7 linked regions of the Homo sapiens genome follow. The protein of the gene in region 5 purifies or fractionates together with the protein of the main gene of each other region. This does not show direct contact. Each region holds a gene or a part of one and is shown on either strand. Other genes may lie near its edges.

What was found.
Region 1: the proteins of CHIC1 (region 5) and MCM9 purify together in Homo sapiens (affinity purification with mass spectrometry; one large-scale study listed by BioGRID and IntAct). This does not show direct contact.
Region 2: the proteins of CHIC1 (region 5) and KIAA0232 purify together in Homo sapiens (affinity purification with mass spectrometry; one large-scale study listed by BioGRID and IntAct). This does not show direct contact.
Region 3: the proteins of CHIC1 (region 5) and KIFBP purify together in Homo sapiens (affinity purification with mass spectrometry; one large-scale study listed by BioGRID and IntAct). This does not show direct contact.
Region 4: the proteins of CHIC1 (region 5) and NUFIP1 purify together in Homo sapiens (affinity purification with mass spectrometry; one large-scale study listed by BioGRID and IntAct). This does not show direct contact.
Region 6: the proteins of CHIC1 (region 5) and ZNF92 purify together in Homo sapiens (affinity purification with mass spectrometry; one large-scale study listed by BioGRID and IntAct). This does not show direct contact.
Region 7: the proteins of CHIC1 (region 5) and BBX purify together in Homo sapiens (affinity purification with mass spectrometry; one large-scale study listed by BioGRID and IntAct). This does not show direct contact.

Annotation. Positions count from the first base shown.
Region 1 is NC_000006.12:118,812,595-118,817,328, forward strand, and holds the end of MCM9 (DNA helicase MCM9), read right to left. Parts: intron 3,701-4,734; coding exon 2,230-3,700; 3' UTR 861-2,229; downstream 1-860. UniProt on the Homo sapiens protein: Component of the MCM8-MCM9 complex, a complex involved in the repair of double-stranded DNA breaks (DBSs) and DNA interstrand cross-links (ICLs) by homologous recombination (HR).
Region 2 is NC_000004.12:6,879,524-6,884,257, reverse strand, and holds the end of KIAA0232 (uncharacterized protein KIAA0232), read right to left. Parts: intron 3,472-4,734; coding exon 3,292-3,471; 3' UTR 94-3,291; downstream 1-93.
Region 3 is NC_000010.11:68,991,803-68,995,302, reverse strand, and holds part of KIFBP (KIF-binding protein), read right to left. Parts: exon of another isoform or gene 3,435-3,500; intron 1-3,434. UniProt on the Homo sapiens protein: Activator of KIF1B plus-end-directed microtubule motor activity. Required for organization of axonal microtubules, and axonal outgrowth and maintenance during peripheral and central nervous system development.
Region 4 is NC_000013.11:44,943,768-44,948,501, forward strand, and holds part of NUFIP1 (FMR1-interacting protein NUFIP1), read right to left. Parts: intron 1-4,734. UniProt on the Homo sapiens protein: Binds RNA.
Region 5 is NC_000023.11:73,681,108-73,685,841, reverse strand, and holds part of CHIC1 (cysteine-rich hydrophobic domain-containing protein 1), read right to left. Parts: 3' UTR 1-4,734.
Region 6 is NC_000007.14:65,383,206-65,387,939, forward strand, and holds part of ZNF92 (zinc finger protein 92), read left to right. Parts: intron 1-4,696; coding exon 4,697-4,734. UniProt on the Homo sapiens protein: May be involved in transcriptional regulation.
Region 7 is NC_000003.12:107,528,792-107,533,525, reverse strand, and holds part of BBX (HMG box transcription factor BBX), read right to left. Parts: intron 1-4,734. UniProt on the Homo sapiens protein: Transcription factor that is necessary for cell cycle progression from G1 to S phase.

The sequences.
Region 1 (4,734 bases), on a different chromosome or scaffold from region 5:
TCTTCTAATAATTATGTCTGTTTAAAATATTTAGGTATGTAGTTATTTCTATCTGGGTAAGTACCAAAGAATAAACATATGGAAGTGGTAATTTGGCCAAATCTTGACAGAAGGTACTAAAATGGAAAGTGGATTGATTAGCACAAAATAATAGGATGCATGGTGGGCACAAATTATAACCAGGTAGAAGGTGGCATTGGCAGTCATACACAATGACCAAGGAAGAAAGACAATTCAACATGTAATTTAAAATATGAATTACTCAGTGTCCTAAAGAGACAAGGTAACTATGAAAATTAAATCTCTCATTACTAAAAATGAAACCTCTAAAACCAAAAGTCCCAATAAAGAATACAAATATTTTAAATAACATAACAGATCAAAATACCCTAATGACATGCCAATAGGTTAGGTACTGTCAGCCATGCAAAACCTAATACATAATTACTGCAAAAGATACCAAGTTTCAAAGACAAAAATTCATAAGACATGGACTTAAAAATTTACCATTAAAAAAAGTCAGCTCCACACTGTGGCTTAGGTTTGAGTCATCCTCATCTAAATAATCAGACCACGCCCAGATCAAGATTCAGCTGGTCAAAAACCCACTTCCATTCCTTTTCCTTTAGTTCTGGTAAGAACACTGAAACCCAGGAAAGCAATAAAACTGAAAGATTAGGAATATATTAAGAATCATAGTATACTGGTAAATTATTAAACAGGTACAGAAATAATAAATTTTATAATCATTGTTTATATATGTCTTTTATCAGCTGTTTAAGGTGTTTCAAACTTCAGAGAATGGTACTCATTATGGCCAATCATTTCAAGACTCAGCCACACTAAATTTGTACTCACAGTTTAAATTTTTTCAGAAAATTTTATTAGTGAATTTTAGAACGTTTAAATGCTTAAGAAAAATTGGATTTTCTAAATTTGTTTTCAATGCGTGAATTGAATGAAGTGAAAATTAAACAAAATACATATAGTTTTGAGTATTCTATGTCCAAAAGTCCCTCTGACAATTAAACAATCAGTTTACAAATTCACACTTCAGAAGAGAAAGTCCATAATTACTGAATCCTAATAACCCTTATTAGAATCCAAAGGAATAAGTGATTTTAAAAGCACATAGAAAGACAAAGCTTGAGGTTATCTATTCTGACCAAAAACAGTATATAATTTCCTTGGTTTTAAAGACAAGTGAATCACAACTTAGTAGGAATCACATTTCCATATTAACCAGCTGGGTAGATGAGACATGATGTTTGATTGAGACTACCACATAGTCTCTCTTCTTCATTTATTTTATTTTTAGAGACAGGATCTCACTCTGTCACCCAGGCTGGAATACAGTGGTGTGACCACAGCTCACTGTAACCCCGAACTCCTGGGCTTAAGCAATCATCCTGCCTCAGCCTCCCCGAGTAGCTAGGACTACAGGAGTGAGTCACTGTGCCTGGCTCATACTCTCTCTTCTTCTAATCACAGTATTTTACTTGGTTGAAGGTAGGCCCCCAAGAGAAAAAAGAATCTGAAGTACAAAATGTTGGCTCAAGAAAGAAAGGACAACTCAGAAGGTCAGTACTTCAGAAAGGTACTGTTTGACCAGTGGCCAGATCTCTAAGAACATCATGGAATTGTAAGGATACCTCTCAAAGAAAGAAAAGCATTAGTCACATTTAACCTGATCCACACAAATCAATACAAAAATAATACTAGAAAAATAGTCTGATTTTGGCAAATCATCCAAGTGATTATATTCACTGTACTTAGCCCATTCCAGGTGAAAATACAAAAAAAAAAAAAAAAAGTAGAAAAGAGTTCATCTGCCTTGTTAGATTTATGAGTGCTACCTTCTTGACATTTGTTCCTGAGTGAATGAAAGAAGAAATTAATCTAGGGAAGAACCTCTCCCCCTTAAAAACAAAACAAAACAAAAAACAGAAACAGCTTCAGGAACAGGAATACAAGTACTCCATTTGTAAAATTAAGCACAACATAATTAATTCAGCTCAGCTGCTGGTATCACACTGACCTCAACTGATTATACAACTTTTTAAGTCATGAAGATTAACCTGAAATTAGAAAGCCTTAAGGGGGAGCCAGTATTCAGAGTGATCCTCAATATGGCCAATTGTTCTATACATTTATAAATACCATATTGATATCCTGAAGGTCCTCTGTGGAGTTGAAGAAGGTGAGATTTGACCAGAAAGCTTTTCCCAACTATGACTTTTTTCTCATCTCTTCATCCCAGTCACAATCAAATGCTTCATCACCTAGTTCTGGTAAAGTGAAGAGGGATTCTTTGGAAACAATCAGTTTCTCGGTGGACCCACGGAGCTGAAAAGATTTCCTTTTACTGACACGCATTGGAGCTGTGGTTGTAGGAGGGGAGCTTGGGCCTCTCTCACCTCGGTTCTTCCTTTCAGGAGGAGGGGATTTTGATTTGGATTCCGATGGGGGAGTAAAGCAGAAGTTTGCCAATCTGGCTAATGTGCAGGCATGAACCTTGCCGCTTTTATTACTGCCTGAAACCTCTTCCTTTTTGTCTCCCTCACAAGTAAGATGAGCACACCCAGTCTCGTTCCCAAGCTCTAATTCAGGCTGAATAATCCTCTTCTCAGGGGCACACATCACCTTCTCTCTTGGTCCGTGTTTCTCTGGTGGCTGCTGCGACACCTCCTTTGTCTCACCCTGTGGCTGACTGGAGATCTGGTTTCCTGGGGTAGATGTTAACTTTCCTGGACGCTTCACCGGCAAGGCTGCGTCTCTTCTTGTTCTACGCTGGGAAATTTTAGGACTATGAACTGCTATTTTAGTTGCACCAGGTGACACATGGCTGTGATCTTCAAAGGAGTGGATCAGTTTTGACTTCTGCTTGAAAGTAAATTTTGCCAGTTTGGCCACAGGGGAACCTGGAGGCTTAACATTTTCAATTGCAGGCTCTTCCACTTGCGCAAGGGATTTCGGTCTCTTTCTTTTGGGTGAGTCCAGCATTCTGTCTGGGCTATGTACAGGAGTGGACTGAGGATGGGAAGGGACTGTGCACTGTGCAGGCACCCTGGTGCTATTTCTGCACAACTTCTGGGCCCTCTCTTTGCACAGCTTCTGCAGGTTCCTGGGGACATGATGAGTCAGTACTGAGTCTGGTTTATCAGCAGAGACTGCTGCTTCAGAATCTAGTGCTAGCCTTTTTTTCTTGTTACTTTCCACATTGTCTGCCCTCCATGGAACACCTGTCTCTCCTGGTGATGGAAGCAACCCAATGTCCACTTTGCTCCTTTGGCCTGGCTCACTCTTCTCCTTACCCTGAGATGTGCTGTTAGAGATCTTCGAAGCCATATTTTCTCCAGATGTTTTGGGATGAGGAGACACAACAACAGTGTTTTTAGGTTCACTCTGATGAGTTGCCATGAAATCAAACCAATCTAAACTGTCATCTCTGTTATTTTTGTGCTGAGCTGAATGTTTCCTACTTGTTGATCTATTAGGCTCCAGATGCGGTGGGGGATCTAGAACTGGGCTTCCCTCGGGGCTGCCTCCAGGAGAGAAGATATGTGTGCTATAGTTGATTTCCTGCTGTGATGAAGTTCTGAAGTTTGATTCTTCCCCTGGACCATTTCTCAAGGATCCTGGAGTAGTCTCTACCTCCAATACCCGTGGTTGGGATTGGTGCACACTCTGATTCTGTAACCTGTAGCAAAGACAAATAAATAAAACATGTCTTGAAGGGAAGAGAATTTGTGCTAACCTATTCATTTCTTTAGTCTCTGAGATACCATCTTAAAGATTTAAGTCCCACATAATTCCAAGTTAATATCAAATACAACCTCCTAGAGCAGCAGAATGAAATAATCCTTTTTTAAATCAATATACAATTTACATACTCAGATAAACACTAATTTAACCTAAAATTGTAGTAAAATAAAGAAAATGAAATCGGAGATTTGTCTACATTTTTAGATCTCTCCAAAAGTCCAATTCATTCATTTAAGATTGTTTGAAGATCAGTGTAAAATCCTCAGCTTTATCTCTCATGTTAAATGTTCAAATACAAGACAGACCTGTTGCTACCCACACAGTAGCTGATTGCTGACCAAGTAGGTTGTTGGCTAACTTGCTTAGTAGTCAGTTTGCAGATCAAGGAACCAAAGTGAAAGACTGGGGATTATGAGGTCTCACATCTCTTTACCCAGTTGAGGTACTGAGTGCATCTGAGCAGTCACCTTCCTCAGGAGTCAAGAGTCTGTGATACTTCTGTACTGGTGCTCACACTGCCGCCTCCTGTACTCCCATTCATGGCAGACCTCCCCAGGCAACTGTGACAATCTTTCCTGCAAAGCCCAGGCATGTTTAAACATATTTACTGGGCAGCTACTCTTTTATCAATTTGATACAGAATTAAAATCTATTTACTTTCTACGAATGAAAGATCTGTTCAGTGATAATCATTTTAAATGATTTTAAATCATTTTAAATATCTTGGGCATATTAGAAACTGAAATATTGCCAGAAGGACAACTTTCTTGTTTTTTTTTACTTTAAGTTCTGGGATACATTTGCAGAACATGCAGGTTTGTTACATAGGTATACATGTGCCATGGTGGTTTGCTGCACCTATCAACCCATCATTTAGGTTTTAAGCCCCACACGCATTAGGTATTTGTCCTAATGCTCTCCCTCCCCTTGTACCCCACCCCCCAAAAGGCCCCAGTGTGTGACATTCTC
Region 2 (4,734 bases), on a different chromosome or scaffold from region 5:
TTCCAGGAGCCTCAGTTCTTTAGGGATAGACTGAATGGTTGGTATTATGTCTTATAGTAGTATCTTGAACTTGATGGAACTTATGTTGAGAAATAAAGTTTATATTTTTTTATTTTTCTTTTAATTCCATTTTCCATGAACTTTTAAAAGTCCCCTCATACATGTTTACAGATGTCCATAGAAACGTTATTCAGATACTGAATAAACAACCAAAAAAACATTGTTTTATCAATGAGGAACCTGTTAAATCTACATAATACAGCTATAAAAATAATTATGTAGTTCTATAATTACCGACATGAAGACATCTGAGTAAAAACCTATTTCTGATGTTATAGAAGAACAAGTATAGTACACTCTTGAATGTAAATTTCTCTGTGTATGCATTCATATATACTGTACATTCAGAATCCTGGAAAGGGGCTTGCACAGATGTTACCAGTGTATGTCTCAGAGTGACAGAAGGACATATGAGTTTTCCTTTTCCCTTATACTTCTTTAAAAACACACTGATTTTTTTTGCACAATGAATATCAATCATATTAACATATAAAGATTTAATTTTTTCCCCAGAAGAAAACAAAAAGATTGAGCTTTGTGTACCATCCACGGACAAAAATGCTATGTGTTTTGCAGACTCAGGTAGTAGTCCCTGCGTGTGCTGGGGGTGAGATGGGGAGGAGCCGCTGATTTCTCAGCAGGCCACACCACTTTCTTCCCTAGCAAAGCTGCACAATGTTTTCAGCAGTGTCTGCAATGAGAGCTAAATGACCTCCATCTAGAACAAATGTAACCTGGGCACTTGCTCTTCCACGGATGCTCATGAGTAAAAGGAAGCTGGAGTTCTTTACAAAAGAAGCTTTGCTATGAGAAATAAAAACAACAAACTGTTTTTTACAATTTTTATTTGGTGTTAACTCCACAAGAAAACAAACAAAAAAAAATCAGTTACTCTGGTGTACGTGAAATCAGAACAATACAACCACGGGAAAAACAATCTCAGCCCAGGAATGGAAACTGGTACTTCAGTGCTATGGAAATGCAATGCGCTTCATACCACAGTGCGTTTCAGCGTTTGCCAACTTTTTAAAAATGCTTTTTCTTTGTGATCATCCATTCACAAAACTAAAAAGCCACACTTTCATCTCTGTTGCTGAAAGCCTCTGAGCTTCAGCTACTTAACTATGAAAACAAATAAATACATAATTTGTGAATCCCTTTGCTCACTTCGAATCCGTCCCATTCACCTGTGGAAGGTGCTGCATCTTCTCACCTGTGTCTGAGGAAGTGTGCACCTTTGCCACCTGGAGCCCTTTCCTAATAAACAGCAGCTGTCCAAAATCAACTGTGCTCAAGGTTGTGTCTGAAATCTATTTATTTGGTCTTTGCTACACAAGCAACGATTTCTAGAATAATCGTCACTGTAGTGATATGAGGAATTTACAACTTTCAATCCTTTTTTACTTTTGCTGTTAAATTATATTTCAGTGCAGATGCTTATCAATTTTTAGGAAGCTCCAGAAGAATGAAAAATACATAAAAACGTATCTGAAGTTCGTAAATAAATAACAGCAACATAAAACCTTACACATGCGCGCGCGCACGCGCGCACACACACACACACACACACACCCACCCACCTTAAAGTGTCAAAAAATGTGTTGTATAAAAATAAACCCTAACACGTGGGAAGATCGACCCGGCGGGCACACCAGGTCCCTCTCGGTGAGGACACACAGACCCTCAATGACTCCACAGTCTTTGATGGTACTTTCTTTTCTGTGTTATCAATTAAGAAAAAGGCAACAAAACCCAAATGTTCAAAGCAAATCATAGATTTCACAGCCAGTTCAGCTCCCAGCTAATAAATTATATGTGTGTTTACTGCCTGCCCAAATGAGTGGTGAAGCTGTCTAGAGCGCATCAGACTTTTCTGCCATTCCTGATGCTCCAGGCATGCTACGCTGATTTCACAGATTAGGTTTTTTTTGTTTTTGTTTTTTAAACAATGAGTTGGTTAAAAAAGAAAAACAATGTAAAAAATGTAAAATGTTTCGGCTGTGCACATACTGCTCCTCCTGGCCTCTGCCTGTGGCACAATGCCATGAGAGCCGGAGGAGCGGATCGCCATGCACAGACGCGACTCACAAGATGCGCCGGCTCCCCGGGCTCACCAAGGAGAAACGGGAGCCAGTCCCACGGAGCGACAGTCAGCAAAACCACCACACAGGGATGTGGAAAACTCATGACTCTACCCGCCCCAACCCACCACACACAGAACTTGCCCAGAACATTCTCTCAAACACAAAATGAGATCGAAGCTATACTACATCACAGCCAAGAAGCGGCTAGCTGCAGCAGCCAAAGATTTCTCTGGGTGATGAGGTGGCCTTTACTGCATGTCAAATGTTCACAATTTCAAGTTTTGGGGGTTTCAATTCAACATAGGTCACCAGAAAGTAACAATCTGTAACTAAGGTCCTTAGCACGTATGGAACACTCACCACAAAGAACCCTGCATGGGGTTTTGGTGTAAATGTAACTGCAGTATGAGAGCAGGTAAGGGGTGGGGTATGCACCCTTACCCCACTGTGTCTCGCATACGACCCCACACCCCAAATCCTTGGCTTCTTCAGTTAGCAAGAAAGTCACGAACCATAGTATCTTCCGTGATACTTTAGGGGAAAAGAAATCCTAAGAGAGAAAACACAGTATTTGGTGAGTCTTGAAAAGCACACCTCTGCGGTTCCTACTGGAAATGTACATGAGATTTTGCTGAATGGAGACCACCGCTGAGTCACCCAGGCTTCCCTCTCGCCTTCAGAAAGGCATCAAGCCACTGTAGGGTAAGAATGGATATCCCAGTTCTTGGAGAACAAAGCCTAAATGCTCCAAAGCTGAAGTCTCTGAAGAGCAGAAGTGGTTGTTGACACTGCAATGCTAGTAAGGTCATAGTGATATAACCGCAGTCGGAAGGAAAATTAACTGCAGTTAAGATGCAAAAAGCAGTGATACTTCTAAGACAAGCACATGCACACCCATTCTTGATTTGACAACACAATCTAGTCTATTTCAAATAGCCAAGAATTTAACAGCTGGGAAAAAAAATCTTTAACAGGATAGCTGTCCTCAACTCTAAAATAAGCAAGAAGAGAAAGATAATTATTACCAATCTGAATCAGTTAATTGAAGAGGAAACCTAAGTTGTTGTTTTAGATTAACAGGTCTCACTGAAGAGTAATTTTCCATCACATATCATTTTTAAACAATAATTTGTACTATTTTGCAGGTTTAGAGATGAGTTCGAGAAAAGAGCTCCTCTTCACTAGGGCCCACCCACTCGCCTCCGCCTTCTGAGCCTGTCTCTTCCGAGGTGGAGCTGGCGCTGGAGCACATCTTTCCGCGGAAGCCATCTGACTTTGCTCCAGAATCTCTCTCTCCTGTACATCTTGCTTCATAAACAGAAGACACCTAAGATTAAAACAATTTTCAACACATCAAAAAGACTTTTTTTTCCCCAAAAGGGTGAGATACTCTATCTATATACAAAGAAGAAATAATAAATCATCAGTGTTTTCCTGTGGAGTTACAAACATGCAGAGTTTTACTGTTTCAGAGCAAAACCGCCTCTCTTCTCTGATCCATGAAGGATCCAAAATCCTAATTCCACATGTTCAGTCACTTGGACAAAATGTTAGCCATGTTAGGGTAGGATAAAGAATTATTTCATTTTCAAAGTCTTTGAGTACCTGCTATGCACCAGGAACTTTACTGGGCACAGGGACTCCAGCAGTGGAAGGCGCATGCCAGGCTCGCTGGGGAGATGAACGAGCAAACCAACATGTGCCAGTTGCAGTGACACAGTACCGATGGTGAGGGGGGCACTGCAGACGGGTGTGTTGGGAAGGGAGTTTGCAGTGACACAGTACAGATGGTGAGGCGACACTACAGACCTGTGTGTTGGGAAGGGAGTTTGCAGTGACACAGTACAGATGGTGAGGGGACACTGCAGACCTCTGTGTTGGGAAGGGAGTTTGCAGTGACACAGTACAGATGGTGAGGGGACACTGCAGACCTCTGTGTTGGGAAGGGAGTTTGCAGTGACACAGTACAGATGGTGAGGCGACACTACAGACCTGTGTGTTGGGAAGGGAGTTTGCAGTGACACAGTACAGATGGTGAGGGGACACTGCAGACCTCTGTGTTGGGAAGGGAGTTTGCAGTGACACAGTACAGATGGTGAGGCGACACTACAGACCTGTGTGTTGGGAAGGGAGTTTGCAGTGACACAGTACAGATGGTGAGGGGGCACTGCAGACGGGTGTGTTGGGAAGGGAGTTTGCAGTGACACAGTACAGATGGTGAGGGGACACTGCAGACCTGTGTGTTGGGAAGGGAGTTTGCAGTGACACAGTACAGATGGTGAGGGGGGGCACTGCAGATGGGTGTGTTGGGAAGGGAGTTCTTTGGAGAAGAGGCCCGCTCAGCTGAGAAGCCAGCCATGCAGAGGTGCCAACACTCTGTGGTGTCGGACTGTCTCCCCTACACCAGATGGTCAGCATCTCTGGACCCCAGGACATGAGATGCAGTGGTGGCCCCTCCTCAGTCACAGTCATTACAAAGCTCCCCTCACCCTGCCATAGTAACTAGCAGCACTCCCACCTCATTTCCAAATGGCAGCATTGCCCCTGGTTGAGAACCCCTGAGGCAGAAGCACAGAAAAGCCACACAGAG
Region 3 (3,500 bases), on a different chromosome or scaffold from region 5:
TAGGCTGGGTACAGTGGCACATACCTGTAATCCCAGCACTTTGGGAGGCCAACGCAGGCGAATCACTTGAGGCCTGGGCAACATGGTGAAACCCTGCCTCTACAAAAAATACAAAAATTAGCTGGGCGTGGTGGTGTGACCCTGTAGTCTCAGCTACTTAGGAGGCTGAGGTGGGAGGATGGCTTGAGCCCAGAAAGCAGAGGTTGCAGTGAGCCGAAATCCCACCACTGCACTCCAGCCTGGGTGACAGAGCCAGACCCCGTCTTCAAAAATAAAATAAAATTTCTACATAGTCCCAGCTATTCAGGAGGCTGAGGTGAAAGGTTCACATGATCCCAGGAGTTTGAGGCCAGCCTAGGCAACATAGTAAGACCCTGTCTCTAAAATAAAATAAAATTCTACAAAATGCAGGGTTGGGGGCAAGCAGAAGGGAGGAAAAGAATATAGGAGAGAGGGAGGGACTACAAAGGAGCACAAGAAAACTTTTGGTGGTGACAGATATGTTCATATCTTGATTGCAGTGATTGTTTCACAGGTATAAATATATATGTCAAAACTCATCAAACTGTACCCTTAAAAATATGTGCAGTTTATTATATGCCAATTGCAACTCAATGAATCTGTGAACAATAACAACAAAAAGTACTCCTATACATATATAACCTGGAGTGGGGACAGCAATCTACTAATTTCCTAGGAAATTTTACTAAAGTGAAGTAATCAAGATGGTAGTGCCAGTGTGTACTGGTGATAACAAGGATCAGAAGGAATACCAGATAAAAATTATTCCTAAGGCACTGGAACCCAGAGAAGACAGAAATCTCTTGATAATCTAATGTAATATCAATCTCTTTTGATAAATAATATAGAGCCAAGTTCTGTAGTTCCCCAAGGAGAATACACCAGATTAAGACAAAGCAGTTAGAATATCATGAATTCCCATTAACTGATACTTGCAAAACTCTTCCATATACACACACATACATACGTATTTGTATATATTCACATGTATATAAACTTTTTACTATATGTGTATATATAATGTAAGTATGTGTGTGTGTGTGTATACTTAGTCTTATACAAAAATAGGATCATTCTATAAATTTTTTTTTTTTCTGAGACAGGGTCTTACTCTGTCACCCAGGCTGGAGTGCAGTGACACCATCTTAGCTTACTGCAGCCTTGATCTCCCAGGCTTAAGCAGTCCTCCCACAGCCTCCTGAGTAGCTGGGACTACACATGCATGCCACCACACACAGCTAATTTTTGTTTTTGAAAAACTGCTATTTATTTGACCAGAAAAACATTTTGGACTTAAGAAATGGCAATAACTGGCACATATACTAATTCAAAATATTTTCACAAAGCACCAAATAGAATAGTTCCCAATCTTTTCACTGAGAAACCTTTGAAAGAATGCCTAAAACTTAATCAGTTTACTTAGGTTTTTAATCAAGAAATCTAAAGCAGCCAATCAGAGTTTCTAATTACCATGAGATGACCAGGTTAACAACCTTGAGGTTGCAGGAGCTTTTAAAAGCTTTGTTTAGGCTGGGCTCAGTGGCTCATGCCCATAATCCTTGCACTTTGGGAAGCCGAGATGTGAGGATCACTTGAGGCCAGGAGTTTGAGACCAGCCTGGTCAATATAGTGAGACCCCATCTCTATAAAGATAAAATTAAATTAAATTTAAAAAAAAAAAAGCTTTGTTTAACCTACGCATTCTAACTGAGATTTGTTGACCTCAGGCTACTAATCACAGGTCCATGTGCCAGATACCTTGCACACACAAAATTGAGTAATAAGTATCATGTATAAAAGATAAAGACTATATGGTCCCTGTATATTTAAAAGGAATAATACCTAATTCTCATGGGTGAACAATTAGTGAGGGGCAAAGAGACAGACAGAAATTACTAACCCACAAGGGAGAACCAAGCAAGGTCAGTAGAAAAGAGAAAAGTCCTGTGCTCTGGGAATGCAGCAGAAAGGGCATTGGGAGGTTGCAGGGACCAGGCAGCAATCCAGGTCATACCAGGAACATGAGTGGATGTCAGTAAGTGTGGGAAGGAGCCTTCAAGGCTGAAAAAAACTAAACAAGCCAAGACACAGAGCCACAGGAGTACTGCCTGTTCAGAAGACAGTGAAGCATGTGTTCTGGGTAACACGATGTGAACTAAGAAGAGACATAAAACTCAGGAAAACCTCACCCAACGAGAGCCCAGAAACAACACTGGTCTGTATTTCTTAACAGCAATTCAACAGAGAATCTGAGGTGGCCTGCAAAACTAACAAGAGAGTAAATTATCTTGAAAGGGCAGGGGCACCACATGCTCTCTGTGGAGGTTCAGTAGCCAAGGATCACCCTGCAGCCCCTCCCCAACCCTACTGTGACACCCCAGACCCTTGGAATCAAATCCACTAGCAATAACCTTCCTTAATGGAAAATCTCTCCCCTCCCCAAATGTAAAACAAAAGATAAAAGCAAAGAAAACAAAACAAAAAGAGACCATCAGAGCAAGCTTTAGCCCTCATAACTCATCTATGCCCCACTGACAACAGGGTCTACTCCATTACTTAAACTGATTTGTAACACTGCTCCTACTACATCCTCCTCTTCAAAAAAAGTAAATAAACACCACACAAAATATAAACTTACCCCAAACAAAAGTCAGCATCAACCTAAGGATCCTACCGTAATGTTACTACGCTAACCCAGGATATTTTAATCTTCTTCCAAACCATTTACAAAAAAATTCCTCATCTGAGACCTCTGGAAGCGTTACAAATACTGTTACATTAGATTGTTCTTCTTGAGGTAGTTTTAAGTCTTGAAACAAAAAATTTACCTATTTTTCTACACCACTGCTAAGGGGTTAATTATTATAAAATGCCTACAACCAAAATCCCCATCCCCTTGATTCTCAAGCTATTAGAAATTTTTCCCTCATATCAAACAAATGGGAAACACACATAAAAAGATGAAAAGTCATGCAAAAATTTTTAAAAGGCCAGACACAGTGGCTTATACTGGTAATCCCAACACTTTGGGAGGCTGGGGTGGGTAGAATTGCCTGAGCTCAGTAGTTCGAGACCAGCCCGAGCAACATGGTGAAACACCGTCTCTCTAAAAATACAAAAATTAGCTGGGCATGGTGGCAGGCACCTGTGGTCCCAGCTATTTGGGAGGCTGAGGTGGAAGGATCGCTTAAGCCAGGAGGGTGGAAGTTGCAATGAGCTGTGAAGGTGCCACTGCTATGTAGCCTGGGCAACAGAGGAAGATTCTGTCTCAAAAATAAAAATAAAAATAAAAAACAAGCAAAAAAAAAAACCCACATAAAAAAGAAAGTGTATCATCATACGAACAGTCTAAACTTTGCCTAAGACAAAAAAAAGTTTACTTGGTTTACCCAAGGTACAGGCATGTTATAAATAAAGTACTCAAGAAATTAACATCTTATAAAAATAGTGAAAAAATTTTAGGTGGGAGCATAAAACTA
Region 4 (4,734 bases), on a different chromosome or scaffold from region 5:
CTAGCCATAATATTGTTCACTTAATAACTTAAAACTATGAAAGATTTTTGCAAGGCATTTATAATGTATTCTAGTATTTTTCAAATTGGAAGCTGTAACTACCAAAAATTGAGAAGACTACCATGAAGAGCTACAGAAAGTGATCTCTATGAAAGAAATAATGCCAGATGGAAACTTGGATCTATACAAAGGAAGGATAAGTGCTGGAAAAAGTAAATATGTGAATAAATATAAAAGACTTTTTTTCCTCATTGGCAAAATTTTAAAACTAAAGCAAAAATATTAAGTGTATGTGCAATTTATAACATCTATAGAAATAAAATCTCTGACAACAATAGTAAAAAGGCAGAAGGAATATGTAAGTAGTATACACTGTAAAATCTTAAATTACATGTGAAGTAGATATCATTTGAAAGTACACGATGAAAAGTTAAGCTGCATACTATAAACTGCAGACCAACTCCTAAAAAGTAAAACAAAGAAGTCAAAAGGATGAAAGAAGATACCAAGCATATACCAATCACATGAACGCCGAAAGTCTGTATTAATGTCAGACAAAAAAGACTTCAGAACAGTGAACATCACCAGGGATGAAGTGGAACAGTTCATAATGCTAAAGGGGTCAATTCGTCAATAAGACAAAGAATAACACCTAAGAACAGATTTTCAATATGCATTGCAGCGAAAACTGATAGAACTGAGAAGAGAATTAGACAAATCCATTATTATGATTGAATATTGAACGTTCCAATCTCAGTAATTAAAGAAAAATTGGACAGAAAATTCGTAGGGATACAAAATATCACTAACGATTAACTCAAATTGACAAAGAACACCCGACCTAATACATTTTCTTGTCAAGTTCATATGAACATTTACCTTGTGTTGGGCCATAAAATAAGTATCAATAAATTGAAGAAATTGAAAGTATAGAGATATGTTCTCTGACTGTAGCAGAATTAAACTAAAATCATTAACAGAAAACTAGCTAGAAAACCCCCAAATATTTAGAAACTAAACAACACACTTCTAAATAATCCAAGAGTTAAAGAACAAATCATAAGAGAGATTAGGAAATATTTTGAAATAAATAAAAATGAAAACATAATGTATCATATTTGTGGACTACAGCTAAAGCAGTTCATGAAGGTACATTTATGGCTTTCAATGCTTAAATTAGAAATGAGAAAAGTCTAAAATCAATTATCTATGCTTCTACTGTAATGTGTAGGGTCTGAGGAAAGAGGAAATACTAAAAAGTGAAAATCAGTGGATTAGAGTGAAAATCAATGACAACAGAGAAAAACCAACAAAACCAGAAGTTGGTTCTTTGAAAAGATTAATAAAATTAATAAATGCACCAAGACTTTTTGAGAAAAAGAGAAAAAAATCAATTAACAACTTGAGAAATAAAAGAGGAGGACATCATTATAGATCCTACAGATATCACAGGAAATATTATGAACTATATACCAATAAATTAACAACTTAGGTGAAGCAAATTCTTTTGAAAAACACAAATCATCAAAACCCACTCAAGAAGAAATAGGAAAATATGAATAGTCCTGGACCTATTAATGAAATTTAATTCATAATTTAAAACTTTCCCAAAAACAAAATGCCAGGTTCAGATGGCTTCACTACTGAATTCTACAAACAAGAAACAAAAAGAAAAACTGGTAGAAATCCTACACAAACCCTTAAAAAAGAGGAGGAAATAGATCCCTACTCATACCAAATCTCTTACAATAAAAGAAAACCATAGACTAATATCCCTCATGAACATGTATGCAAAACTCCTTAATAAAATATTAGATCAAATCCATCAATGTATTAAAAGGGTAATAGACCATGACCAAGTAGATTTTATCCTGGGAATACAGGCTGGTTTGACATTTGAAAATCAATTGACATTTCACCATTATTAACAGAATAAAGGAGAAAAACCATATGAACAGTTGAAAATTCACAAATTTTAAGCTCAGAATCTTCACCTCTCCCCACTCCCCAATAGTTATACTATTTACTTACTATGAATCAGTGTGATATGATATAAAGAATTCTATTCTAGAAGTTGGGAGACAGGGTTCAATTGCCTAGACAAGAGTGGCAAAACCCATAATACTCAAACATTACATAGGACTGAATGTAGAAATTATATTTGAAAAGAAGTATAGGGACAAGTGTTAAAAGCAGACTCTGGTGCCAGACTGTTAGGTTCAAATCCTAGTTCCATCATTTACTAGCTGTGTGACCTTTGGGCAAGCTACTTATCTCTACCTAAATCTCTTCATCTATAAAATAGAGATGATAAATAAGAAAAACCAGGACACTATTTTCTATTATTCCCTTCCCCTCAAGTATCGATCACTCAATTCAGGAACACAAAGTCAAATGAATCAGAGCTTATAATTGTCAATTTTCTGCTAAGAAATGAGGACGGGACTAACATTTATATTTTTCTCTTTCTTGAGATTTACAACATTTCCCAGATAAGTATCATATATTAATGTAATGTTCACCAATTAAATTTTAAATATAGCTCATTCAGTTCTATCAAACATTTAACACCCTTTTTGGTTTGTGGCCTTCTGAAATAGTCTTTAATTTGGAAATCTCCCCCATTATAGCCAAATCAGTTTGAGGAAACATAATTTTGGGGAGTTGTAAAACTGTGCTTAAATTCTAACACAGTTAAAAAAATGCTAAAATGCTAACATGCAGAATAGATATTAAACCAACCCATTTGGAAGTATTTCTTATTAAATTTGTATCTTAGTGATTCTTACAGACCCTGATGTGAGTATTACCTCTTCCTTTGCTTCAGTCTTACTTGAGGGACACTTTCCTTGTTTAAATATCTTTCCAGAAAAATGCTATCCATGTTTAAGATTCCAAACACTTTCATGCTAATTCTTAAGTCAAGACAGATCTTAATTATGAAGACACAATTGTTAAACTCAGGAAGAAACAGATTGTTCCTATATATTTAGAATCCAGGTAAATAAGCAGCCTTCTAGATACTATTTCATGGTTAAAAGACCACTTTGTTTCCTTGGTATTATTTATTTAAAACTCCCTATGTGTCAATATCCCATCCTAGAGCCCAGAATTAATACTGAAAGCTAGAAATTTGCTAGTGACCTGGATGGCTTAATAAAGCTGAATTCAAATTATATAAAATAATTCTTAAGACTTAGGAATGTGAAGCAAGGGTTTTTTCCTTAAAGCAGGACATTTTAACAATTAGTCAAAATACATTCATACAAAATCTTATATATAGTTTAACAGATAATATCCTTTGTTATCTATAAAAGAAAAGTCTACGCATTATTGTGCAGGATGACAGTAAATGCCAAAGAGAGAAAGACTATAATGGAAGGCAATGAAAGTTGGCTTCTTCGGACTTTTAAGACTCCAAACCTATATGTCAGGTCTGCTACATACCAGCTTGCCAAGCTTATTCCTTTTTTTTTTTTTTTTTTTTTTGAGATGGAGTTTTACTCTGTCACCCAGGCTGGAGTGCAGTGGTGCGATCTTGGCTCACTGCAACCTCCACCTTCTGGGTTCAAGCAATTCTCCTGTCTCAGCCTCCTGTGTAGCTGGGATTACAGGCGCACACCACCACACCAGGCTAATTTTTGTATTTTTAGTAGAGATGGGGTTTCATCATGTTGACCAGACTGGTCTTGAACTCCTGACCTCCGGTGATCCACCTGCCTCGGCCTCCCACAGTGCTGGGATTGCAGACATGAGCCACCGTGCCCGACCAAGCTTATCCTTTCTATGCTTAAGGTTCTATAAAATAAAGAGGTGATCTCAAAGATCCCTTCCAGTTTCCTTTCTTCCAATTTAAAATGATGGCAGTCTCAAAATGAAGACATGAGTATAAAAATACTGTTCCATCTTAAGAAACAGAGAAGCAAGCATTAGTCCAGCCTGTTTTTATGGGATTCTGTAATTCTGGTAATAGTTTTCTTTGCTATCACCTGTTATGAATACAACTGATAAGCAGGAAATGTAATATGTGTTTAAAGAATAACTCCATCTTCACACCAATGTATGAGAAACAAGAGCACAAAAAAATGCTATTTTTCTTAAAATTAAAATAGGCAACCATCTGTTAAGGAATACTGTGATAAAGCCAAAGTAGCTTATATTTCAAAATTCAAGTAGCTATTAAGAAGCTACCATAGTAAGCCATGGCCCACTTAAAAAAGAAAAAACTTCCCATGTTACAGATACATGTAAACACCATTTTTCATATTAAAGCCTAACGGCTCCTTATTCAACATCTTCCAAATACATAAACATTGATTATCTCTAGCCTAGTCAACATTAAAAGTGCTGCCATCTCCATCAAACTACATTTCCTTTTTTTTTTTTTTTTTTTTTGAGCCAGAGTCTCACTGTCACCCGGGCTGGAGTACAGTGGCACAATCTCACCTCACTGCAACCTCTGCCTCTTGGGTTCAAGCAATTCTCCTGCCTCAGCCTCCTGGGTACTGGGACTACAGGCACGTGCTGCCATGCCCGGCTAACTTTTGTATTTTTTGTAGAGATGGGGTTTCACCATGTTGGCCAGGCTGCTCTCGAACTCCTGACCTCAGGTGATCCACCCTCCTCAGCCTCCCAAAGTGTTGGGATTACAGATGTGAGCCACCGTGCCTGGCCCATCCAATTACATTTGAATCTTCTCTTCATTCTATATAAACACTTTTAGACCTGTATTCT
Region 5 (4,734 bases):
AGGAGATTAATAACAAAATTTACTATTAAAACAATAGACCAAGTGCAATAGTCATTCTGTAGGACCTGACTGAAAAAGAAAACATAGCATGGATTTAAAGAAATCTATTTAGAAATTATATAATTATGATATCCAGTATATCTTTCAGTCAACTTCAAAGCACACTAATATATGAAAATATCCTCAATTCCCCTGTGAGGTAGGTCCAGATTATTGTCCCCACTTCGACAATGAGGACGTGAGGTACAGAGGAATTAAGCAGCAGAGCCAATAATTAAACCAGAAGTGACTTGTATTTGAGTCCCATACCACTTTCCTTTCCACCTAATTTTATCAATTTGTTCCAACAGATCTTTTTGAGGGTATGGAATTTGATTAGACACTAAAGTAAATGTTGGATAGGATATGAAATCTTTACATAAATGCCAAAGTGGGTCCTCCAATATTTCCATTGTTGTTACAGCTAAAATTCTTGCCTGAATACCAACTGCATAGACAGATTCTACACAGGCAAAGGACACAGACCTCAGTGCTCAGTTCCTAGGAAAACTACATTTACTCTTAGCATCACCAAGGAACTAAGGTCTAGCAAGCATCAGGTTCTTGGAGTCTGTGTGATAATTAACACGTCAGCCAGTCGGCAAATCAAACTTTTACTGCATGCAAGGCACTGTGAGAGTTTCCACCAAGGACAGTAGATCTGAGAATAATCATTCTGAGATTCTATAGAGTAAAAATGTCCTAAGAATTCCTTGAATCACAGAATGTTAAGTGATCTCTAATTTTTTGTCCAGCTCTAGGTTCCACCTCATCATTTTACAGAAGAGACAGACATGCAATTAAGATGACCTGCCTGGAGCCCACAATATTAGATCATTTCCTCATATAGTATGAATTTGACAAAGTTCACAGAAAATGGAACATACTCACAGGGTGCCATCAAAACAAAAAGGCTGGCTCAGAATCAGGTAAGAAAAATTTGGGGCAAGATAAGATCATTCATTTTTACATACAGATATATATCAATTGTTTTAGTCCACATACTACATGAACAGGTATTAATAAAACCTATTCATTTTTATGGAAAATTTCCCAATTGTTTGCTATTTAAAGGAACCCAAATAATTTGACAGTTGTTGCAAAATATTTTTAAAGTATACTTTTATAGGCATGAGAATCTAATTTCAATAAATTTGAGCACTTATAATCAAATTAGCAAAAAGTATTTCTACTATGTGAAACTGCTCCAGTTAATCAGGTGAATATAATTTCTATATCCTCCTAGGTCAATATAGTACATTTTAATACAATATTGTTTGGGAGCTTTATGTTCAAGTAGTGAGGTTTTATTTTTTTAAATGGCAGCTTATTTGTAAACAAAATAAAAGTGCTAATGATCTTTTAAAGCTTTCATACATTTGTTCAAAGGCTTACACGTTTTTAAACTTTATTCAAATTTCATCAAAAATGGTAGATAAAACAGTTTGATTGCTCAGATATTAGTGTTTACAGGCCATAATAATATGAATAGTATGTACATTAAATACTTAAATGGGTTTTGGTGGGGCTTTAATCAAAGACAACTGTCCTTCCAGAACTAAATTAAATTACATGTTTACTAGCATTAGAATTATACTGTTTTTTTAAGTGACTGATAGTCCGGTTCTGTAATATTTTGTCACTAATATATCATGATTGGGGAAAAGGAAGGAAAGAAGCTTTACATAATAAATAAAAGATAATACACTAGTAAAGTATTCTTAGACCTAGTTGAAAAGGATGATTTCTAATCTAATCATCTACCAATTCATTTATTATGCTTCCTTACACGTAATGTGTTATCTTTGTTCTAAAAAGACAAGGCACTTCTCCATCTTCTTCTAAAGTTTTACTACAGTGGTCTCTTTCCTAAATTAGCATTAGGAGGGAACAAAGAGTGGAGACATATCTGGGATGGAGTTAATAAATCTGTAAATAACACTTGCCCATATTAGTTATTAGGAATAAACATGTTATTGGCTTTTAGGACAAGCTTAAAAATAGCCAGTTGGACAAATTTATGAAGCCAGAATCTTGGGCCAAATGAGAAACATTGGAACATTAATTTTAAAAAACAATTTTAGCTTGTAATCTTAAAGCCTTGTGAGATTTATATACTTTGGCAAATACATGTTTTGCTCTGGAAACTATCACAAGTTTCATAAAGGAATATTATGTAACAAAGAAATTCAAAATTACTTTCTTCAGTCTAAAAACAACTTTCACAAAAGTATGTTACTAACCTAATGGAAAATTACAAGTATGTTCTATCCTAAGCATAACAGAAAAAAGGCTCCATGGGGGAGGAATTAATCACCAGTGTGCTGTGTCATTTTAGCATTCACTGCAACCAATTTCACTGAAAACAAAGCAACCCCGCCCAAACATTACAAAATACTCAATTGCTAATCAGCCCCCTGCAAAGGAAAACAGTTTGAAAAAGTAGTCATACAAGAGAGGAAAAAAATTGGTATTTTTTTGGGTAGTTGAAGAAACTAAGATGAGTCAACCAGCATAGCGAACAATAAAATAATAAACTCGAGTGATTAGAATAGGCTTTAAAATTAAGTTTACACATGCTGACAAGTGGTTTTTGTGACAAATGCTACTGTAACTTGTATTATACTGTGTCATTTCCAGATATACTGTATTCCCATTCTCAATAATTGTTTCATGGAAACAATTCACCACTTCATGCTGTTCTTTGAGCAAAACCAAGTGTGATTTATACATGGCAGAAAAAGTTCCTATGACCATCATATGATCAAATTCTAAGGTTATAGAAAAAAATAAGATTTCTAAGGATCAACACTTAAAAGCAATTTTCTATCAGTGAAAATGAGATATTTTGTATTATGCTGAAAATCGATTTTGGTATTAAAATATCACAGTTTGAAGCATAAATTTGATAACATTAGCTGGAACATAAACCTCAGATACAATTTTTCCCGACCTTAGCTACAAAACAAGACATTTGGTATACATTTTCAGAGGCTTCTACCTTGTCTATAAAAATACACCTTCAATTTTGCAGCAGGCAAACACATAATATTTGCAGGCATACACATTACTAAAGGTTAGAGATTTGGGGTGACTGAGTGGCACAGAGGTAATGGGGCACAGAGGAAGGTGGAAAAGTGTTTGTGCAAACAATTATAATCACATATAAAATAGTGTCTTCTTTTTCCTCTCTTTTTTAAACTGGTCAAGGACTGTGGATTTCAAATTAGGCATAAATTTTAAGAGTGGCTTAAAAAGGCTTGACCTTCTATGAAGAAATGATTGTTCACTTCACTGAGATGAATCTTGCCTAAAAGGTTTACTAAAAGCAGTAAGAGTAAGATGACAAAATATTACTGAGCCCTAGACACTTTTATTTTTAGCACTATGAATTACAAATAATGCCTACAAACAGGCATACATTTGCAGTTGAATTAATGTGATATAAAGCTTTCATTATACTGAATTTTCAAATTCTAGTTGTGTGGTGCTAGCAATCATTTTAATTGTGAAGAAAAATAGAGAAATATGGACCAAATAAATGTTACATATGTGCTGAATTTATAAACTAAAATACTTTTGTCTAAACACTTGTCTTTCCTCATTAATGTTTTATAAAGGATCATCAAAAACAGAATTGAGAATTTTTTTTCAATTATGAATCAGCTGCTATATACTCTTTAGCTACAGCTTCTCAAATAGTTCTCTCTCTTTCTCAAACTAGAATATCAGAACTGCAGAAAGGTGTTAGTGGCTTTCAAGAGGGTCTAGATACCTTCTGAAGATGTCTGAAATCTCAAAATACTCCTTAAAAGTCATAATTGTGTGTATTTTCAAAGGAAGAAAAGGCTAATAAATGCAGGATAGTGAGACTGTGAAATGTGTCAGATGTCAAATAGTTTTTTTGTGGGAAGGAGTAGACAACAAAATGGAAATTATTAAACGAAATGGAAAAATAAAGGTCATGGTTTCAGGTGCAATACAGAATATCTGAGATAATAATTTCAATTTTAGTCCACTTGTTACAAAGGGCAACCTTGCCCTACACCTGAAATTCTTAACATACTCATTATGGCCTTGCCATAAAACAGCATGTTAGCAGTTTCTACATTCAAAGGGATGCTTGCAAACTTCATTCATATTAAAATCTATGTAAAATTGTTGGCAATACAATAAGAGTAATGTTACATTATGTAAACCATGGCATACCACATTTTACATTATGCAAAGAGGCAATATTTACAAGTCTTTAGGAGTTTAAATATTTTATCCACTAACATAAGTGATAAAGCAAAGTGCAGGACAAAACCAGTGCCATTAATTGCATGTCCTTTAAAAGCATGTCCTTTAAAAGCAGAGTAAAACCATTTCTAAAAGCTACCAAAAGCTTATTTAAGTTTGTCCAGTAAGGGATTACAGAGCATCAAGTAGCCTAGAAAAATGATGCGAGTTTAGAAACAATGAGTATGAAAATTATAAGGCAGCATGCTCAGAACAAGTTTTTGTTTTTTAAACACCAACACTGATGATTTATCTTTAATGGCAACTATCTATATATGTATATGCACACACGCATGTGTGTGTATTTAAAATTGAGAGTGCAAAACACAAGCCTCATTGAAAGACAAAAAAGATGTGCAAATTTTCTTCATAAACCAACACAAAAGAGCGAGAAGAATATTCTACCATTATAAA
Region 6 (4,734 bases), on a different chromosome or scaffold from region 5:
GTGAACTGTCTACTTACATTTGTGGTTCCTCAGCTTTTTCCTATGAAGGAGGAAATTAAGGACATATTATTTAGAATGTGCCAGAGCAGCCTTTATGAGGGGATCTCTCCTTTGGTTGTACTTTTGCTGTAACACCCAAGAATGCAGAGCCAGGTTGACCCCATCTAGAATCTTCACATGTCTGGCCTGGGATTTGCAAGACAGGAGCAGACTTTGGATTGAAAATGTACAGAAAACCAAGAGGAGGCATTCTCTGCATTGTGAGATGTCAACATAGACATCTTAAAGCTACCTCCTTTGAGAGTGTGGCTATTTGAGCTTTTCAGATCTTGTTCAGTGACCTGTTACTGTTACGTGAGAGGTGCCAGGTATAAATAGAATCTGATGGCAGAATCTGTAAATGTAAACAAAGCATCTTAGGAGTGAGAGATCAAGGCCACAAAGTATCCAGAGCCATGACTACAACTATACCTACCTGTAAAAAATGTGATACTGGAGTAGAGTATTCTTGTCCTTTCTCTTACCCAAAGACTACCTGATCAGGACAGGTAATCCAGGTTCTGGAGCTCCACCAGGGCAGTTCTGTTTTCTATTTAGAATCAGCCTAAGTCTCTACTGCCTGGCTTACTACTGGGCCATCAGCCCAGGATCACTGAGAACCCTCTCACAATCACCTAGGCATCTTTGAAACATTTGAGGATGTCCAGAGTAAAACTGTGTTAGGCTGACAAGAGTGGTTCATTCTGCTTTTGTCTCAGTGTAAGAGAAATGAGTCACGCCAAAAAATGGGGGCTTCATTTGGGCCGCTTCTTTATATTGTTGTGACTTCTGAGGTCATCATTTGAATGGATGTTTATGGACAGAAGAGTTGTTATTATTATTTCTGTTTCTTTTACCTTGTTAAGAATACATATTTATCTTCTAATACAATTATGCTAGAAAGCCCTAAGAGATTTGTTTAAATTGCTTATTAGTATATGTTATAAAATTGACAGGGCAGTGGCTAAAAAAGATTAAAATTACACAAACTGTGGGATTTAAGTTTCTCTTAGGTAAGCTTAGGAAAAACAGAACGGAAATACCCCAGTGGCATAGAGAGCAGAATTCTACATAGTGTCCTCTCCCTGCCCCATTTCTGTTCAGATTCACCCTTTTTGGAGGCCTTATTGAAGTCTGGCTTCACCTTGGAGTCTAGCCTTACAGAACTGATTGAAAGAGAAGTGTTTTGGGTGATGAATTCGGCTGCCTTTCTAGAGCTGTTGCTCAGGATTTCTTGAAATCTAAAAGCAGATAAATGGGAAAAATAAAATAATATTTTAGGGCCTTAATTTCTTAATTTTGTATTAAAATCAGTGCATGCAGAAACATGCCATTTAGCAACTTATTCCTTATTCTATTCCTGAAGACCCAGTAGTTGCTCCACAAGCCACAAACAAGTAAATATAAACACAATAAAAATTCCTCCAAACTACGTTAAACTCTTTTCTTTATTCCTCTCATCTGTCTATATGTAGCTTTTATTCTGTACATTTTTCACAAAAAAAATGACAAATATAAATGCTGGGCCCTTTTTCTAAATTCTGGCAATTATTAAACAAAACCAACTCCCAGGGTGTTACGAGGATTAAATCACGTAATGTTTTATTCCTAGCAGTACTCTGTAACATACTCTTGAGGACATAGTACCTGTTTAATAAACATTGCATTAGTGCATGTGTAAATGTTGTTTTCCAAATGCAGACTTATTTGGACATTGCTGGCCTCTGTTTCCTCTGTAAACTTTAAAGAGCCAACAAAGAATATACTTTAGGATGAAGATTGGTTGTCTTTATTTGTACCAGAAGTATTTGTATTTTGACAAGAGTGCTGAGTGTAAGGGATTCTGTGATGTGCCTGCTTTGTCTAACTAGTGCTAATAATGAGCGCAGGGGGAGCAACATCAGCATCTATAGAGGACTTGTTTAAAATACCCTTTCATGGACCATTTTCAAACCTGCAGAATCACATTACATAGAGTGGGGCCAAAATCACCAAGTGATTTATAAGCTTATCAGTGCTTGAGAGATAATAATTAGCTAAGCGTTTATCAGCCCAGGCTTCTGATTAAGATTACATAGCCAGTTTGCAGAAATCTCTATTTGTGCCCTCCCCACAGGTTCTGTTCTATTGTTCTGGAAACATCCATATTGCTTTAAGGGCCTCATGTGACTCTAAGGTGAGGCCAGAATCAAGTATGAGGGATTCAAGATACATTCGTGAGTGTTAAGTTCTATCTTCGCACTAAAGGGTGGTCACAAGGCCTGTTTTCTTTGGGTTTGGTAGGGACAGGGCAGAGTGCCCCATATTTCCATTACTTTAGCAAAAATTGTTGGTGTCTGTGGTAGCAGAGGGCATCTGAGGACGGGAAAGGAGATATCATTATCTCCATAGAGCAGCTTATTTTTCCTGAATCTCTTCTGTTATAGAGGACAGAAATGGGTGGACTTTTTCTGCAGGTCTTGGACCTTCTGCCTGTGGGTGTGGTGGTAGCAGGTAAACAGGTGGTGCCGACACCTTTAAAGCCATATTCTTAAGATTCAGGTGTAATTTCTCCAGAGAATCATCTGAGAAAGAATCCCAGAGCAGGAAGAGAAAGAGGAAAAAATGGCTATTTTTCCGCTAAAAGTGTCTCAGATCAAGAGCTGTGTCCACTGTGCCTCCTGGAATGCCATGTGTTTAGTACTTATAAACCTTCTCTACTTGTGCTTTTCCTCCCTAATGAGTTTGTTTTAACTACTGTAAAAAATTTTCATTATAGTCAAGTATCTGAAAAATTTTTATTTATTTATTTTTGAGAAGGAATCTCACTCTGTCACCCAGGCTGGAGTGCAGCGGCATGATCTTGGCTCACTGCAACCTCTGCCTCCCGGGTTCAAGCAATTCTCCTGCCTCAGCCTCCTAACTAGCTGGGATTACAGGCGCGTGCCACCATGCCCGGCTAATTTTTGTATTTTTGGTAGAGACGGGGTTTCACCGTGTTGACCAGGCTGGTCTCGAACTCCTGACCTTGTGATCTGCCTGTCTTGGCCTCCCAAAAGTGCTGGGATTACAGGCATGAGCCACCGCACCCAGGCAAATATTTCTTCCTATATACTGGAGCCTTCTCTACATCATGGCTTCTTATATGCCATGTAGAATTCTCACCATGAATTTATGATCTTAAAAATGTTCCCTTTGTGACTATTGAATATGGGAGGATGAATATACTCAAGATTCCTATTGGGGAAAAGCTGGGGTCCTTAGTCAAGGAGAACATGTAATATTGAGGTTTCATCTGTCTTCTCCATTAGCTCTATGCAGAACAGGATTAAGAAAATGCTTTTTGAAACAGGATGGCATTTACTACCCAGAAAGTTCTGAAGAAAATTATTAGGAGATATATGTTGTCTAGGGTGCTAAAGAAAGACTATTTAAAATTACTATTAAAAATTGCAGAACATGGGAGATATCTGTATCTCAAACTTTGCATAAAATGGATGTTTCTTTATGGTTAAATTCAGGCTATAATTTACTTTTTGGGGAAGTAATATCCCAGCAGTGATGCTGTGTCCTTCTGTTCATCAGCACATTATAAAAATTTGTCCTAGTTCAGTTGATATTAATGATTCACTTGGTTAAAGAGCTCTCTGACAGATTTTTTCACTATAGAGTTAGTAATTTTTCTCTCGATTATTAAGTATCTGTTTTCTTTCTTCTTTTTTTTTTTTTTTTTGAGACGGAGTTTCACTCTCGTTCCCCAGGCTAGAGTGCAATGGCGCAATCTCGGCTCACTGCAACCTCCGCCTCCTGGGTTCAAGCAATTCTCCTGCCTCAGCCTCCTGAGTAGCTGGGATTACAGGCACGCGCCACCATGCCCGGCTAATTTTTTGTATTTTTAGTAGAAATGGGGTTTCACCATGTTAGCCAGGCTGGTCTCTGAACTCCTGACCTCAGGTGATCCGCCCACCGCAGCCTCCCAAACTGCTGGGATTATAGGTATAAGCCACTGGGCCCAGCCAGTTATTAAGTATCTTTATGCAGCTGATGTGCATAAACCATTACAGTTAATCTGGCAGCTGCCCTTCTTTATTAGGTTTTCTTTGCATATATCTGTCTTTGGAAAATGAAGGCTCTCGTCTTTGTTTATGGGTCAGAAAAACTGGGAAAACCCACACTCCTCCCCCTTACTGGATGCTTGACAAAATAATCTTCTTGGGCAAAAATCATTGGCATTATTGGTGATCTTCTTAGAAATTAAGAAACTCAGACTTTATTCCAGATGTTCTGAAAAAATATATGCATAACAAGATCTTCAGTTTATCATACACATTAAAATTTGAGAGGTCACTTCTAACTCCATGTCTTTTCCATCTGAAACATATACACTCAGAAATGTACGTTTGTGTTCATGCCCTTAATTTTATACTTTATCATCCAGAAAAGTATCATGTATACACTGGTGTTATGGATCTTATGTCATTCTCTTTTCTCAGAGTTAGAGAATACATTAGAAAATATTTCTGTATTGAAAATTATTTTATTGGATCATTTCAGTCACTCCTGTAAGTCAGAACTTGTTCTCTTTACTCTTTCATTTCACCTTAAGTCAAATAAAAAATTCTGCCCATGGCCACTTAGTAAACATATGTGTGTTTGTGTGTGTGTGTGTGTTTTTCAGGGACCACTGACATTTAGGGATGTGAAAATAGAATTCTC
Region 7 (4,734 bases), on a different chromosome or scaffold from region 5:
ATGATGTCAATGACTACCATTTTGCTTACCTGACTTTATATCCTTATGCCTTACACCTGTACATTTGGAGCCACAGGGTTTCAGCAGACAGTCTGATTGAGGTAATATATAATGTTAAAAAATCTTTCATCATTTGTTAGCTGGCAAGGAACTTAAATTGTTCAATGATCAGTGATCAAAGTTAGCAAAATAATTTTTCATTGGGTTAAGTGGTTAGGCATATCAGAGAATTTCACTCTACCAACCAAGGAAGTTAATGCAATAGGATCACAATCCCTTATTTAAAACCCTTAGGTCCTGATATGCTTCAGGATTCAGATTTTTGTGGGGTTTAAAAAGGCAAAATGGTACCTATAGCACATATTACATAACATTCCTAGCTATATCTAGGATAATACCTCACAATTAATCAATATTATTATTTCCAGCAAAATATGTGAATATTCTAAGCAGGCTTGAAAACTACTTTAAACAATCCCATGACAGTATGGGTTAGGTTTTGCTACCAAATGAGTTTTGATACCACACTTCTGAAGGAAAAAAAAAACTTTTAGTTTTTCAGAGCTTTTTAGATAAAAGATTGTGAATCTATTTCCAATACTACTACATCAAAGTACTGAGGCGTTTTCAAAATATAGAGAGCTTATTAATTTACCGGAGATCAAAAACGTATGGCAAATTAAAATTTAGCAAAGTGGGAAGACGTTCCTGGCAAATATAACCTTAAAAATTAGGAAATGCCAAAGTCACTTAATTTTGATTTATTCACATAAATTTAATGATTGTTGAGACTACTTAAATTTTTGTGTCAATGTGTATTTGAGTACGACAGTACCATTTGAAAACCCTGATACCTGTAGTCTTCTGTATTTTCTGTACATTTCCCCAGCTTTTGGTTTTCACATTGTTTTGAGATTTCAGGGATTTAATGTATTCCCCATTTATCTTCTCCTTAGCTTGCCCCTCTTTTCAAGTGCCTATTTTGTGCAATGTAATTTGTTAAGCACTACATATGTAACACTTCTCAATCTCCATGCCTTGACACAAGGATGGGTTTTGTTTATGAGGAACACCCCAATTAGAACAATTAAAGTACCATAATTTACAATTTTCCATGTGTTTATTAAGTATATTCGAAGTTTTCATTATAGCACCATTCTCACTTGCAATTTGATATGCCTTTCTTGACTTTTTTTAAAAAAGGAGTGGCTTTATCACACTGTGAACTACCTATAAAACTCACAGCATAATTTATCTGTCTGTTAACCAGGGGAAATCATAATGTCCCATATGTAAACATTGGTCACATGTTTTTGTTTTGGTTTTTTTTTTGAGACAGGACCTTGCTCTTTCACCCAGGCTGGAGTGCGGTGACACGATCATGGCTCACCGCAGCCTCAACCGTGCGGGCTCAAGTGATCCTCCCACCTCAGCCTCCGAGTAGCTGGGCCTACAGGCACACACCACCACCCCCAGCTAATTTGTTTTTATTTTTAGTACAGGCAAGGTCTCACTATGTTGCCCGGGCTAGTCTTAAACTCCTAAGCTCAAGCAATCCTCCTTCCTCAGCCTCCCAAAGGGCTGGGATTACACATGTGTCTTGACGGAAGAAAGTTTGAGAACTGATACTCTAAGACATTCTAATATCTATAAGTCACCAGAGAGAATGCCCTGTGCTGACAAGGGAGAACTACCGTGAAATATGAAAAGAGCTGTTCTCTCATCCCATACTCTACTTTTTTAAAGAGGTGGGAAAATCATTCCCCAAACCTGAAGGAGGACTGTACTTTACTGTGGCGTGCCTCAGCTGTGCTTGGCTTTTCTCCTTCTGGTTACTCTTATTATTTCCTTCCCTAACAAATTACTTGTCCAGCACCTCATGTCTAGTTAAAAACATACCCATGTTTCATGATAACTAGAGGTGAGAATCACTTTAGAGAAAAAAAAAAAACTAAAAGGCTTTCAGAAATTTCAAACAGTGGAGGGTAGGGTGAGATGAGATGTAATTACAAAAACAGAGACTATATATTGAGCGCTAACTGTGAATAAGGGTCCTACATTCATTACTGTCTTGTGTAATCCCCATATTATTGCATGGTAAACATTACCATACCCATTGTGCACATATGAGAATAAAAGTTTAAGGGATGTGAGGTAACATGCTCAGAGTCCCGCAACTAATAAGCAATAGAGGCAGCAGGAGTGGAACCTAGAGCTCTTTGGTGGTACGGCCTCTGTTCCTTGTACTACACCTTCTACTACAGGAGCACCTACAGAGGGTGATGAGGACCTTCCTCAGTATTGCAAACATACTGACTGAAATACAGCCAAAGAATGGTGAAGATGCAAGACACCTCATAAAGTCAATGAACTTCAGCCCCACATTCAGAACATCCAATCTTAGGCCATCTGTCCTTTGTACTGAGGTTTCTCAAAGTCAATTGGAGGACCTCCTACTTGCTTTAGAATCACCTGCTACATGTGCTAAAATCTAAATTCCATGGCCCCACCCCAGAAACACTGAATGAGAATATCAAAGGATGAGGCCTAGAGACCTCCATTTCTAAGAAGGCAAGCAGGCACTCTAGGCCAGTGTTTTTCAAACTATAAGTCATGAAATCAATTTGATAGATAATACCTAGTATTTTTTGTTTAATAAAATGGCTTGAAACAGATTGGATTTATAAAGATTAGTTAGGAATAGAAAATATCAGAGGGCACTGCACTTTGTCCTGTTTCAGGAAACTTGTTTCAGTTCTTTTATGTGGATTGGGATGTTAAAGGTATTTTTTATAATATACCTCAGTCAAAAGTATTTGAGAAATACAGCTGTTTTGAATAATTTTTACCCCATTCTTATTTCTCCTCTAAAGTAGGTTATTGGCCTTTTATTTAATTATTCCTATTACAAAAAATGCAACCTTGTATGTTCCTTTTAAGAGTTCAGTTATTCTGTTCCAGGAGTTTGTTTTATTCCCTGAACTTTTCATCCGAGGACCATGTTTAACCATTGGCTTAATTATTTAATCAACATTTTAAAATATTTTTAATTTTTTAAGATTTCATAAAATCCAATTCATTCTCATTGTTACTTTGTGTTTTTCTGTTTTGTTTTGTTTTGTTTTGTTTTGTTTTGTTTTGGAGACAGAGTCTTGCTCTGTCGCCCAGGCTGGAGTGCTGTGGCACAATCTCAGCTCATTGAAACCTCCAGGTTCAAGGGATTCTCCTGCCTCAGCCTCCCAAGTAGCTGGGATTACAGGTGCCCACCAATACACCTGACTAATTTTTGTATTTTTAGTAAAGACAAGGTTTCACCATGTTGGCCAGGCTGGTCTCAAACTTCTGACCTCAGGTGATCCACTTGCTTCCGCCTCCCGAAGTGCTGGGATTACAGGTGTGAGCCACCAAACCTAGCCTGTCACTTTGCATTTTATACAAACCTTCTCATTATCTGAAGTCATTTCACTATCTAGATTCTCGAACTTACATATTTTAACTTATTAAGTTTACATTTTGGTACATTTGGTAATATCAATGCTTCATGGTCTACATTTAATCTTTTAAGTCTTTCATTCTCTCATCTTCTATTTATATATACTTTTAGATGAAATTCTTTACTGGCTTGCTTCTTTTGTATTCTCTCACATAACTGGCACTTATTTCAATTCTTACCTGTTTCCTTGAAAGCAAAAAAAAAAAAATGAAGACAATCCCCATTAATACATGAGGATTTTCTGGGTATATCTGTACAGTTTTAAAATGATGTACTGGCATTTCAAGGAAATATAACTGCCTTCTAAAGGATAATATCACATATGAACATTGAGCGAAGTTGTAATCAAAAAGTGCTTTCCACAGGTATGACTTAAAATACAGAAATACTGACAATTAGACACAGTATGTGATGACTACCCTTGAGGTAGTACAACACCCAGTGACTGAATGACAGTCACAGAATCTTCAAGCTGGAAGAGCCTCCATTCAGTCTCAGTCTTTCTCTTTACCTATTCCCTTCATAGCAGTGTTGCTCAGTGTACTGAGGACTGCCTGCATCTGATTTCCCTGGGACACACGATAAAAACAAAGCAGTAAGATTACAATGTCCTTAGTAAAGTTGAGTTTGTTTTCATTTCATAGTGACAAGAAGGAATCTGACAAAAAATACAGGAGAGATACCACTCAGGCCCATTTCAAAAGGTACCCTCAGTGGTGAAATGTTAAACAATGAGATGGACTTCAAGGTACAAGTTCAAGAAAAGCATCTTCCTCTTAAGTTAAGCACCTGCTTAAGGTTAAATCTTAAAGCACAGGTATGCCACGTTGGTGGTAATGTAATATGTTAAAATTAATGCCTATATTTAGTAATTTGGAGCATTTGATGTAACAATTGTCAACATTTTATATACTTTTTTAAGACACTAATAATAACTTCAGGGACTTCCTGTAGTACAGCAAAAAGGCACATCTGTAATGGAACTGTTTTCAAAAAGTTCTTTTTTTAGTAGTATAGAGCTGTGAAGCCTTTACCATTTCTATTAAAGATTTCTAATATAAAAGTAATTGAAATTCATGACAAGATCTACTTAAAAATATACCCCTTGCTTTTACCCATGTTCTTTATGAAATGTAAGAAAACATATACTGTTAGTAGGCTGACTATTGACTAGTAATTAAAAATTGCCTGTGATTTTACTGAAAAGTGTGGCTTTATAAATATTTTAGCTACTGAGTTAG